2 separate regions of the Homo sapiens genome follow, and region 1 is linked to region 2. Evidence: fine-mapped expression QTL. Tissue or cell type: whole blood. Region 2 holds a variant in brackets; the other region holds the start of a gene. All regions are shown on one strand. Distances are between the middles of the regions.

Region 1 (5,000 bases), 64 kb before region 2:
CCTCCTGGGCTCAAGTGATCCTCACACCTCAGTCTGTCAAGCAGCTGAGACAACAGGCACACACATCACACCAGGCTAATTTTTAAAATTTTTTGTAGAGGTGGGTTTTGCCATGTTGCCTAGGCTGGTGTTGAACTCCTGGGCTCAATCGATCTTCCTACCTCTTGGCCTACCAAAGTTCTGGGATTACAGGTTTGAGCCACAGTGCCTGGCTTTTTTTTTTTTTTTTTTTCTTTTTTTGAGACAAAGTCTTACTCTGGCACCTAGGGTGGAATGTAGTGATGAGATCATAGCTAGCTGCAACTTGGAATTCCTGGGTTTAAGCGATCCTCCTGCCTCAGCCTCATGAGTAGCTGCTGGGACTGCAGGTGTGTGCCACCACACCTGGCTATTTTTTTTCTTTTTGTTTTTTTTTTTGGTTGTTGTTTGTTTTTTGTAGAGATAGGGGTCTCCTATGTTGCCCAGGCTGGTCTGAAACTTCTGGCCTCAAGTGATCCTCCTGTCTCGCCTCCCTAAGTGCTGGAATTATGAGTGTGAGCCACTGCACCTGGCCTATATTTATCATGCTTGAATGAAACAATATATACTATGTATTTTTTTTTGATAAGATGGAGATGAGAAGAATTGACACTTCCTTCTAGTGAAGTCTAGAAAATGATTCTCAGGGCTGGGCGTGGTGGCTCATGCCTTTAATCCCAGCACTTTGGGAGGCCAAGGCAGGTGGATCACCTGAGGTCAGGAGTTTGAGACCAGCCTGGCCGACATGATGAAACCCCATTTCTACTAAAAATACAAAAATTAGCTGGGTGTGGTGGCATGCACCTGTAGTTCCAGCTACTCAGTAGGCTCAATTGCTTGAACCCGGGAGGCAGAGGTTGCAGTAGGCCGAGATCGTGCCACTGCACTCCAGCCTGGGCGACAGAGAGAGACTCCGTCTCAAAAAAAAAAAAAAAAAAAAAGAAAAGAAAAAAGAAAAAAAAGAAAATGATTCTCAGGAATTGCTTGAACGATGAGAAGGAGGCAGTACAAAGTTCTGCAAAGAGGGAGGAGTAGGGAATTCCAGATTTATGGCAAATATAACAAAGGGTCAGGTGCTTGGACTCAGGCAGGATAACTTGCTCCTTTACTTATTAGTTACTTAACCTGACTTAGAACTTAACTAGCTTAACTTCGGTTTCCTCATTCGTAAAATGGTAATAATAATAATAGGGCTGTTTTGAAAATTAAATCATGTAGGCAAAAAATCATATAAGGCATTATCCAACTCAAACTACGCATTATGTAAATGATAGTAATCCTTGGTGTTAGAGAAAATTTAGAAGAAGAGGATAAACTGGATAGAAATGTACCTATAAATCCTCTACTCATCTCTTGAATTTTTGGGAACTCATTTTGGCGAGAAAAATCACACTTGTTACAAGGAGTTCACAGACCCTAGAATCAAGAGAGCTAAAACTAATTAATACACATACATATATTTAAAATTTTTGAGACAAGGTATCAGTCTGTCACCCAGGCTGGAGTGCAGTGGTGTGATCAAGGCTCGCTGCAGCCTACTGAGCAGCTGAGAGACTACCAGCAAGCACCACCACACCTAGCTAATTTCATTTTATTTTTTATTTTTTGAAGAAATGCGGTTTCACCACGTTGCCCAGGCTGGTCTCGAACTCCTGACTCAAGCAATCCACCTGCCTCTGCCTCCCAAAGGTCTGAGATTACAGGCGTGAGCCACTGCGTCCAGCCCCAAAACTAATTTAATATTGCAGGGCTTCTTTTCTATTTTGAAAGTGTTTCTTTTAAATCAAGTTCTAGATTACCTTTATTTTATACTACTACTTTTTGTCTATTTGAGCATTTTATTTTTCATCATTTGGTTTAAGTCATTACAAAAGGCATTGAAGGTCTGTCTACCTGTCCATGACAGATAAAAGAGATTAGCTCCTGTCTGAAAATGTTTGCAAAGTAGTGTAATTCTCCTAGTCCTTCCTGAAGCTTTCCCAAAGAAGCAAAAATATTCAGACATAAAGCTACCAGGAACTCCAACCTGTTTGATCACTATTCCCTTGCTCACCAACCTAGTCATCTTTCAGCTACTCCATGCATGACTTGTGCTGAGCTATTAGCTCCCACATGAATACAAGCAATTCTTATACCTGCCTAATTCAGATGATCTTTCTTAGGGTTTGAAGTCCCTGGGGATCCGAAGCTGTCCTAGGTATACACTTCTCTCAACCCAGTCCAGCACAAAAGGAGACGACTAACGATGAATGAAATTGAGAAATCAGCCCACACTGGTAATCTTGGAGGAATTTGGTATTCTTCGTGAAATAAAAGAGGCGCAAAGGGGCCCTGGATTAGGGTCCGGAGAGAGGGGTTTTATCCCAGCACTGCCCCTAACCAGCTGAAAGGTAGGTGGTCCAATCACATCAGCTCTCCGAGACTCAGTTTCCCCATCTATAAAACAAGGAGTAGGCTTGACGGTCCCTGTCTCACTATAATTTCCCAATCGAGGTTCAGGGAGAAATCCACAAAACTAATAAAACTTCTTCACGGACTGCTAAATGTGAACTCACTGGTCAAGGCTGCAAGATTTGCTCTTTGGGTCAAGGCAGTAGGGGCGGCCACAAGGAACCAATCTCAGTTAAGTTATTAATGCACTTTGCCCAGACTAGTAACTCTCCCCTGACGTTCCGCATTTCCCTTGCTTCTCCCGGAAACGTGGGGCGCCCAGGAATCCTAAACTTCCAATCCCTAAGCTTCCAAACCCCGCCCCTGGGAGGGGAGGGGGCGCGGAGCCGGGCCTAGTCGCGCGCCTGCGTACTGCGGTCAGAGGGCCGAGGCCTGGGGGCGAGCTGGGGTCGTGCAGTACAGCCTCTTTCCGGCAAATCACGCGAGATTTCGTTCACCCGGGCTCCACAGGGTCAGTGACGCGCGAGCGGCTCCCGCGACTGTGGCTCCCGAAGCTGCTTCGGGCCCCAGCGGTGAGGAAGAAGACTCTCAACCAGGGTGACTTCTAGGCGTCCTCCCGGAGCTACCGGGGACACTGGCGTTATTGCCCGCAACACTGAGATAGGGAATGCTCGAGAAACAGAAGCAGGTTTTGGGGTTTTTTTTGAATTACTGGGGGAAAGCAACCTGAGGTTTTGACGTAATTGTGTTTGAGGTGCCTCTGAAACTTTCATTTAACACAGATTTGTTGAGCACGTACCATGCGCCGGGCATAGGGGATTGGACTCACATTTTTTTGTGTGTGTGACGGAGTCTCGCTCTGTCTGTCGCCCAGGTTGGAGTGCAGTGGCGCGATCTCGGCTCACTGCAGCCTCCATCTCTCGGGTTCAAGCGATTCTCCTGCCTCAGCCTCCCGAGTAGCTGGGATTACTACTGCGCCCGGATAATTTTTTGTATTTTTGGTAGAGACGAGATTTCACCGTGTTAGCCAGGATGGTCTTGATCTCCTGACCTCGTGATCTGCCTGCCTCGGCCTCTCAGAGTGCTGGGATTACAGGCGTGAGCCATCGCGCCCGGCCTGGATTCACATCATTGAACAAAGCAGACGAGTCCTTATCCTCTTAGCGCTGACGAGCTGGGCAGTTAGTTTGAAATTCTGGGCTAGAGACGCAAATTATTATTAATTTCCATATAAAGTGGTTGGTAGGAGGAGCCACAGGGCTCAGGGAGGTCACTGAGAAAGGGAAGAGCAAGATAGGAATCTCCACATGCAAGACTTCGGGAGGGGAAGGGGGAGACCAGAAAACCGGAAGGGGAGGAGAAGACTGGCAGAGAGATCCAGAAAGACACGTGGTTTGTTTGTTTGTTTTTTGAGACAAAGTCTCGCTCTGTTGCCCAGGCTGGAGTGTCCTGGCTGGATCTCGGCTCACTGCAGCCTCAGTCTCCTGGGTTCAGGCAGTTCTCCAGCTTCAGCCTCCTGTGTAGCTGGGACTATAGGCGCCCACCACCACGCTTAATTTTTGTATTTTTAGTAGAGCGGGGTTTTCCCATGTTGGCCAGACTGGTCTCGAATTCCTGGCCTCAAGTGAGCCTCCCACCTCAGCCTCCCAAAGTGCTGGAATTACAGGTGTGAGCCACGGCTCTGGGCCCAGAAAGATACGTTTTATAACAAGGCGTGGTCAACAGGGTTGCTAGTGGCAGAATAATCGCACGAAATAAGGGTATTAAAAGGTATTAGGAAGCTCATGTGATGGAAATAGCAGGTGCCGTGTTGGAGTATGGGTTCTAGCGTTATTACAAGTTGGGCGACTCTGGGCGAATTATTCTCTTTCTGTACCTCTTTTTTCTTCTCTTTTTTCTTTTTTTTTGAGATGGAGTTTCGCTCTTGTCGCCCATGCTGGAGTGCAATGGCGTGATCTCGGCTCACTGCAACCTCCACCTCCCGGTTTAAAGCGATTCCCCAGCCTCAGCCTCCAGAGTAGCTGGGATTACAGGCGCCCGCCACCACGCCGGGCTGATTTTTGTATTTTTAGTAGAGGTGGGGTTTCGCCGTTTTGTCGGAGCTGGTCTCAAACTCCTGACCTCAAGTGATCTGCCCACCTCAGCTTCCCAAAGTGCTGGGATTACAGGCCTGAGCCACCATACCCGGCCCCTTTTCTCATCTATAAAATTGAGAGGATGATATTACCAACCTCACAGTTTTTTTGGGGTGAGGGTGGGGGAGGTGGTTTAAACAGGCTAGTGAATGAGTCTGTGCTCAGTTCCTGGCATTTAGGAATATTAAGGAAACAGGTTGAGAGAAGGGACTTTTTCCAAGTTCCCACCTGGTTAGAACTAGGAGAAGTACTCTGTTCTTCCTACTTAAATGACCTTTCCCTTTTACCAGGCTGCAAGGTAAACACTCAACACACTCTATCATCACATCGGAGCAAATTCGTCTGTTATTATTTTGGAATATTAGCACCAAGTAGGAATAGTATCCCAGGCAAATAGGATTTGCTGAGTTTTTTTCCCCTACTTGGGATGAATTTAACAATCTACCCTTCTTTCAG
Region 2 (8,521 bases):
TAAAAGGATTGCTAAGTAACAGTGAATGAGGACATAGCTGAGAGTAAGTAGCATAACTTTTTTTAGTAGACCTGTTCAGATTTTATTACTTTTCTCTGCTACTGCTTAACAGTTTAAAAGCTGGGTACTGGAGAAAATAGGTGATGGAGGTTAATCAGAGCAGAGGCTTGCTGAGGAAGAGATGAACTCAAGGAGGAGAGGGATTCTAGAATGGAATCAGGTCATTGTTGAATGACTGGCCGTGGGAAACAAGGGGAAGCCAGAACATGACAAGTGGAGAGGAGGAACTGGAAAGTTACTTATGAGGAAAGCAAGCTACTGCAGCAGGAGCAAGGAAGTTGGAGAGTTATAAACAATCAGGGATGTACATTTCAGAGTTGAGATCTTAGAAGTAGAGCAGTTTTTTAATATGATGACAAGTTCTAAGCAGAGGTGGCAAACTGGTATCCTGTAGGCTAGATGTGGACTTCAGATGTGTTTTGCTTGGATTGTAGAGCGTTTTTATTTTACTTTACTGTGTCAGATTATGTGAAAGATTCACCAAAGTAGAGAAATTTTTTTTTATATAGCAACAGTGGTGTTATACCTGTCAAAATTAATATTTCCTTGGTTTTATCTTATAACCAATCCATGTTCAGTTTTTTCTACTTGTTTCGAAAATGTCTTTTAAAGTTGGTTTGTTTAAATCAGGATCCAACAAGATCCAATATTATATTTGGTTATTAAGTCTTTAAAAATCTAGATCTTTCTACATTGAGTTGTTGTTGTTGTTGTTGTTTGTTTGTTTTTTTCATAGAGTTGTTGCAAAACAGAGTCAGTTGACTCCTATAGAATAGCCCACATTCTGGATATATTGGTTTGCTTCCATTTATGTCATTTAACTTGTTTCTCTACGTTTCCTATAAATGTAAGTAAGCTCTAAAAGCTTCAAAGTTTGGAAGTTTTGGGCAAGAATATGTCAGAGATGGTTCTGTGTGCTTCGTTTTGTGTCACATCAGGAAGCTCACAGTGCTTGGTTGTCAAAATTGATCCATGGGTTCAGCTGGCCTGATCCCTGTATTATAAGGTTCCCTATGAACCTTTCACTTTCTTTTTTTTTTTTTTTTTTTTGAGACAGTATTACTCTGTTGTCCAGGCGAGAGTGCAGTGGCGTGATCTTGGCTCACTGCAGCCTCCGCCTCCTGGGTTCAAGCAATTCTCCCGTCTCAGCCACCCGAGTAGCTGGTATTACAGGCGCGTGCCACCACGCCCGACTAATTTTTGTATTTTTACTAGAGACGGTTTCACCATGTGGCCAGGCTGGTCTTGAACTCCTGACCTCAAGTGCTCTGCCTGCCTTGGCCTCCCGAAGTGCTGGGATTACAGGCACGTGCCACCACACCCAGCCAACCTTTCACCTTTTGATTTCATTCCTAAATGATACCTGAATCTCTTATTTCATAAAGGATTGTAAAATGGTGGTTTTTCTTATTCCTTTACTCCTTTCACATTAGTTGGAATTCTTCTGTACTGTGCGACTCTTTAGTTGGACTCTTCCACTAATATCAAGTAGGGCTATTTGATCATTTGCATAGGCAAGACAGGATAAATATGTAATTCTTTTAATTGTGAATTTTGAGAATAAGGAATTGATGCTCTAGTTACTTCTAGTATTTCATGTTTGATGCTATTTCAAATGAAATGTTTTCTTGATTTTATTTTTGAGTTGTTCATTGGTAGTATATAGAAATACAATTGAATTTTGTACATTGATCTTGCAACCTTGGTAAATGCTTGAGTTTTAGTAGTTTCTTTTTTTTTTTTCTTCCAGCTTTTTAGTTCAGGGGTACATGTGTAGGATGTGCAGGTTTGTTACCTAGGTAAAGGTGTCCCATGGTGGTTTACTGCACAGATCATCCCATCACCTAGATATTAAGCCCAGCATCCATTAGCTATTCATCCTGATGTTCTCCCCCTCCTCCTACACCCCATTTTTTTTTTTCTTTTCTGTTTATTTTTTTAGAGACAAAGTCTCACTCTATTGCCCAGGCTAGAGTGCAGTGGCACCATCATAGCTCACTGAAGCCTTTGAACTCCTGGGAACAAGTGATCTTCCCACCTCAGCCTCCCCAGTAGCTGGGACTGAGGCAGAAATTTAAAAATAAATATGCATTCATTCACTCCAAGAAAAGTAACAGGCAAGGCAAGGGTTAAAAAGAAAAGAACAAGTTTTCCTCTGCCTAGCAAGCTCACTTCAAGGACAGTTATAAGATAACGCTGTTTGAGAAGCCAAGGCCAAAGGAATGGACTCCAGACACCCCCTCTTCCAGAGCAAGGTTGAAGGAAAAAAAAAGGAAAGACAAATTCCTTTACTGTTACTCCTTTCCCTGGCTTCTTAAGCATAACTGTGTTTTGCAAATGTCTGTATTTAGCCAGTTCTTATTTTTCTTTCAATGCAGCTATAAGGTCACCAGCTATGCAAGGCCACAAGTTATGCTATGCTATAAAGTATGTGACCTGTCATGATTAACTGCTTTTGTTTTACTTTTGTAAGTCCGCTTACAAAAACCCCACTCCGTCTTTGTTTAATGCTCAGCTTTTTGGATGTGAATCCACTGAGCTGGTGCGTACCTAAAATAAACAATCCTCCTGTTCTCCGTATCAGTCTCTCCAGTCCTCAGTTTCCTGCAATAGGACTACAGGCTCACACCACCACATCTAGCTAATTTCTATTATTTTGTAGAAATGGAGTCTTTGTGTTGCCTGGGCTCGTCCTGAACTCCTGGCCTCAAGTGGTATTCCCACCTTGGCCTCCCAAAATGTTGTTGGGATTACAGGCATGAGCCACCACACTTGGCTGAGTTTTAGTAGTTTTTAAAAAATAGATTTCTTAGTGTTTTCTACATAAAAGATCATGTCATCTGAGAGTAAAGATAGTTTTGCTTCTGCCTTTCCAAGCTAGATGCCTTTAATTTCCTTTCTTTCTTGCTTTTTTTTGAGACATGGTCTCCCTCTGTTGCTCAGGTTGGAGTGCAGTGGCATGATCATGGTTCACTGCAGCCTTGACCTGGGCTTGGGCAGTCCTTCCACATCAGTCTCCCGAGGCTGGGACTACAGGCACATGCCCAGCTTTTTTTTTGAGTCTCGCTGTGTTGCCCAGGCTGGAATACAGTGGCGCAATCTCAGCTCACTGCAACCTCCACCTCCCAGGTTCAAGTGATTCTCCTGGCTCAGCCTCCCAAGTAGCTGGGATTACAGGCATACACCACCACACCCAGCTAATTTTTGTATTTTTGGTAGGGACGGGTTTTCACCATGTTGGCCAGGCTAGTCTTGAACTCCTGACCTCAAGTGATCTGCCCGCCTTGGCCTCCCAAAGTGCTGGGATTACAGGCATGAGCCACCGTGCCTGGCCCCCAGCTAGTTTTTTCAAAAAATTGTTATAGAGACAGGGTCTTGCCATATTGCCCAGGCTGGTTTCACACTCCTGGGATCAAGCAGTCTTCCTGTCTCAGCCTTCCAATGTCGGGATGACAGGCATGAGCCACTGCACCTGGCCTTAATTTCCTTTTTTTTTTTTTTTTTTTGGAGACTGAGTCTCCCACTGTCACCCAGGCTGGAGTGCAATGGCGTAATCTGGGCTCACTGCAGCCTCTGCCTCCCGGGTTCAAGAGATTCTATTGCCTCAGCCTCCTGAGAAGCTGGGATTACACGCGTGAGCCACCATACCCGGATAATTTTGTATTTTTAGTAGAGACAGTGTTTCAGCATGTTGGCCAGGCTGGTCTTGAACTCCTGATCTCAGGTAATCCACCTGCCTTGGCCTCCCAAAGTGCTGAGATTACAGGCATGAGCCACAGTGCCCGGCCTACTTTCTTTTTCTGGCTAGAACCTTGAGTACAATGTTGAATAGAAGTGGTGAGGCCGGGCGCAGTGGCTCACACCTGCAATCCCAGCACTTTGGGAGGCCGAGTCAGGCAGATCACCTGAGGCCAGGAGTTCTAGACCAGCCTGGCCAACGTGGTGAAACCCCATCTCTACTAAAAATACAAAATTATCCAGGTGTGGTAGCTCATGACTGTAATCCCAGCTATTCAGGTGGCTGAGGCATGAGAAT[C/T]GCTTAAACCCAGGAGGTGGAGGTTGCAGTGAGTCGAGATCGCGCCACTGCACTCTAGCCTGGGTGATAGAGCGAGAATCTGTCTCAAAAAAAAAAAAAGTGGTGAGAGTACGTATCCTTGTCTTTTTCCCAGTCTTAGGGGAAAAGCATGTATTCTTTCATGATTAATTTTTTTTTTTTAAGACAAAGTCTTACTCTGTTGCCCAGGCTGGAGTGCAGTGGTGTGATCTTGGCTCACTGCAACCTCTGCCTCCTGAGTTCAAGCGATTCTCCTGCCTCAGCCTTCCGAGTAGTGGGGATTATAGGCGCTCGCCACCATGCCTGGCTAATTTTTGTTTTTTTTAGTAGAGATGGGGTTTCACCATGTTGGTCAGGCTGGTTCCGAACTTCTGACCTGAAATGATCCACCTGCCTCAGCCTCCCAAAGTGCTGGGATTACAGGTGTGAGCCACTGCACCTGGCCTTTCATGATTAAATTTGATGTTAGCTGTAGTTTTTTCATAGATGCCCTTTATCAGATGAAGGAATTTACCTTCTCTTCCTAGTATGTTGAGAATTTTTATTATGAATGGGTATTGGATCTTGTCAAACACCTTCGTGTGTCTGTTGAGATGATCTTGTTTTTGTACTGTATGCTACTAATTTTACTGCTAGTAGTTGGTTTTTGGATGTAAAACCAACTTTGTGTTTCTAGGGTAAATCCCATTTGGTCAGGGTGTATAGTCCTATTTATGTGGTGCTAGACTTGGTTTTGTCATAATTTGTTAAGAATTTTTACAGCTGGCTGGATGTGGTGGCTCATGCCTGTAATCTCAGCACTTTGGGAGGCCAAGGCAGGAGGATTGCTTGGGCCTAGGAGTTCTGGACCAGCCTGGGCAGCATAGGGAGACCTGTCCTCTACAAAAAATAATAAATCAGTAAGAGAGAGGGAGGGAGGGAAGGAAGGAAGGATGAGAGGAAGGGAGAGATAGAGAAGGAGGGCGGGAGAGTGGAAAGGAAGGAGGAAAAGGAGTCTGGATGTTCATGAGCGATATTGGTCTGTAATGTTTTCTTGTGATATCTTTAGCTTTTCTATGAGGGTAATTATACTGGCCTCCCTGGTTCAAGTGATTCTCATGCCACAGTTTCTTGAGCAGCTGGCACTACAGGCGTCCACCACCAATGTCTTGTTAATGTTTGCATATTTTTTAGTAGAGATGGGGTTTTGCCTTGTTAGGCTGGTCTTGAACTCTTGGCCTCCAGTGATTCACTTGCCTTGGCTTCCCAAAGTACTGGGATTATAGGTACGAGCCACCGTGCCTGGCCTGGTTGTTATTTTTGGAGCTTCTCATGCTGTATTTATGCTTTTGACATGACCCATTTGTCTTGTTATAGCCTCTCTGCTTTCTAACACAACAACAGTTCCCAGGCTTACCTTGGACTTGGAATCAGCTATTCCTCCATGGAGTCCTGGTTCCTTATAGTTGGAACCACAGTCTGGGTGCCATGTGCCCGTTGCTGTTAGGTTGTCATCGTTGGCAGGGCGCAGTGGTTTATGCCTGTAATCTTGGCACTTTGGGAGGCTGAGGCGAGCAGATCACTTTAGCCCACGAGTTCGAGACTAGCCTGGGCAACACAGTGAAGCCCCGTTTCTACAAAAAAAAAAAAATACAAAAATTAGCTGGGTGTGGTGGCATACACCTGTAATCCCAGCTACTTGAAAGGCTGAGGCATGAGGATCTCTCGAACCCAGGAGGTGGAGGCTGCAGTGAGCCGAGATGCACCACTGCACTCCAGCCTGGGAAACAGAGCGAGACTGCGTCTCAAAAAAATAAATAAATAAAAAGGTTGTTACTGTTTCTAGAACTTTTCGGTGGAAAGAACTAAAGACATATTTTTGAAAAGAAAATAATTGGTTCATGTTGATAATTCCAATTTAAATTTTCACATTAAACAATTTTCAGGGGATTTTTTTGTACTTTATTTTTTTCTTACATCGAAAATCTTGGTTCATAACATTAATACAATATTGTTTCAAAATGATAATACCAATATTATCAATTTGTCTACAGAATGAAGTTTAAGACTTTTGGAGCTGTGGTTCTTAGAATAATACTATGTTTAAATACCCTTTAAATCATTGTTTTAATATATCACCAGCTTGATATGTAGATTTGCTTCAGTTTCTTTTTCAAAAAGCCTTGATTATAGGTGTGTCTCTTTACCATGTTCCCTCCCTCCTTCTCTTATAGGTATAAACACTTTTTATTTCCTATTTGGTTTACTTTTCCAGTGGTTCTTTTTGCATATACAAGCAAATGCAGGTTATTTAAGTTGAGATATAGTTCACATACCATAAGATTCATCTCAAAAAAGTGTGCAGTCCGGCCGGGCATGGTGACTCATGCCTGTAATCCCAGCATTTTGGGAGGCCGAGGTGGGTGGATCACCTGAGGTCAGGAGTTCAAAACCAGCCTGGCCAACATGGTGAAACCCCATCTCTACTAAAAATACAAAAATTAGCTGGGTGTGGTGGCATGTGCCTGTAATCCCAACTACTCAGGAGGCTGAGGTGCAAGAATCACTTGAACCTGGGAGGGGGAGGTTGCAGTGAACCGAGATCATGCCACTGCACTCCAGCCTGGGTGACAGAGTGAGACTCCATCTAAAATATAAAAAGAAGAAAAGGGTGCAACTAAGTGATTTTTAGTAGTAATATAATTATCCCTTGTTATCTGTGGTGTATAGGTTCCAGGACCCCACAGATACCAAAATCCACAAATACTCAAGTCTCTTACATAAAATGGCATGGTATTTGCATATAACCTACACATATCCTCCCATATGCTTTAAATCATCTCTAGATTACTGATAGTACCTAATACAACGTAAATGCTATGTGAATAGTTATGCTATATTGGTTATTTGTATTTTTTATTGCTATATTGTTATTTTTTATTTATTTATTTTTTTAGATGGAGTCTCGCTCTGTTGCCCAGGCTGGAGTGCAGTGGTCCACGATCTTGGCTCAATGAAACTTCCACCTCCTGGGTTCAAGTGATGCTCCTGCCTCAGCCTCCCAAGTAGCTGAGATTACAGGCATGTGCCTGGCTAATTTTTATATTTTTAGTAGAGACAGGGTTTCACCATGTTGGCCAGGTCTTGGAACTCCTGACCTCAAGTGATCTACCTGCCTTGGCCTCCCAAAGTACTAGGATTACAGGCATGAGCCACTGCGCCTGGCCTGTTATTTTTTATTTTTATTTTTTCTGAATATTTTTTATCTGCTTGGTTGAATCAATGGATGTGGATGGCCAACTATATATTCATAGTTTTACAGTTTTCTCTACTGTCCGACTCCACAACATTTCATCATCCCAAAAAGGATCCCCATATCCAGGAGATGATTAAAAAAAGAAAAAGAAGTCCCATTATTAGTATCATTGACCATGTCTCTCTTTCTCCAGCCCCTGGCAACCATTAATCTGCTTTCTGTGTCTGGATTTGCCTGTTCTGGACATTTCATATGGCCTTTTTTTTTTTTTTTTTTTTTTTTTTTTCCCCTAAACGGAGTCTTGCTGTCTCCCAGGCTGGAGTGCAGTGGCGTGATGTCGGCTCACTGCAAGCTCTGCCTCCTCGGTTCACGCCATTCTTCTGCCTCAGCGTACCGAGTAGCTGGGACTACAGGCGCCCGCCACCACGCCCGGCTACCTTTTTGTATTTTTAGTAGAGATGGGGTTTCACCGTGTTAGCCAGGATGGTCTTGATCTCCTGACCTCGTGATCCTCCCGCCTCAGCCTCCCAAAGTGCCTGGATTACAGGAGTAAGCCACCGTGCCCGGCCTTTTTTTTTTTTTTTTTTTTTTTTTTTTTTGACAGAGTCTCACTCTGGCTCAGGCTAGAGTGCAGTGGCATGATCTTGGCTCACTGCAACTTCCACCTCCTGGGTTCAAGCAATTCTCCTGCCTCAACCTCCCAAGCAGCTGGGATTATATGCGCCCGCCACCACGCCTAGCTAATTTTTGTAGAGATGCGGTTTCACTATGTTGGCCGGGCTGGTCTTGATCTCCTGACCTCAAGTAATCTGCCCGCCTCGGCCTCCCAAAGTGCTGGGATTACATGTGTGAACCACTGCACCTGGCTAAAATAAATTTATTTTAGATTCAGGGGGTACATGTGCAGGTTTGTTACAAGGGTATATTCCAAGATGCTGAAGTTTGGGCTACTAATGACCCTGTTGACCAAGCAGTGAACATAGTACCTGATAGGTAGTTTTTCAGCCCTTGCCCCGTAGCCGCTTTTGGAATCCCCAGTGTTTATTGTTCCCATCTTTGTGTCCATAAGTACCCAGTGTTTAGCTCCCGCTTATAAGTGAGAACATGGTGTTTGATTTTCTGTTTCTGTGTTAATTTGCTTAAGATAATGGCCTCCAGCTGCATCCATGTTG

What was found. PIP is the estimated chance that this variant, and not a neighbour inherited with it, causes the effect.
Region 1: it holds the start of PTGR2, and the variant in region 2 is fine-mapped to the expression of PTGR2 in whole blood (TOPMed, PIP above 0.99).

Annotation. Positions count from the first base shown.
Region 1 is chr14:73,849,024-73,854,023 of GRCh38, forward strand. It overlaps PTGR2 (prostaglandin reductase 2), which reads left to right and starts at 2,808. Exons shown (of 10, transcript NM_001146154.2): 1 at 2,808-2,920. RefSeq lists a silencer at 2,542-2,944 and an enhancer at 2,554-2,603.
Region 2 is chr14:73,911,080-73,919,600 of GRCh38, forward strand. All of the region lies in intron 8 of ZNF410 (zinc finger protein 410), which reads left to right. Among named protein-coding and RNA genes, the nearest start is that of ZNF410, 28 kb to the left of the region's middle. The variant C/T (reference allele first, on the strand shown) is at 4,097.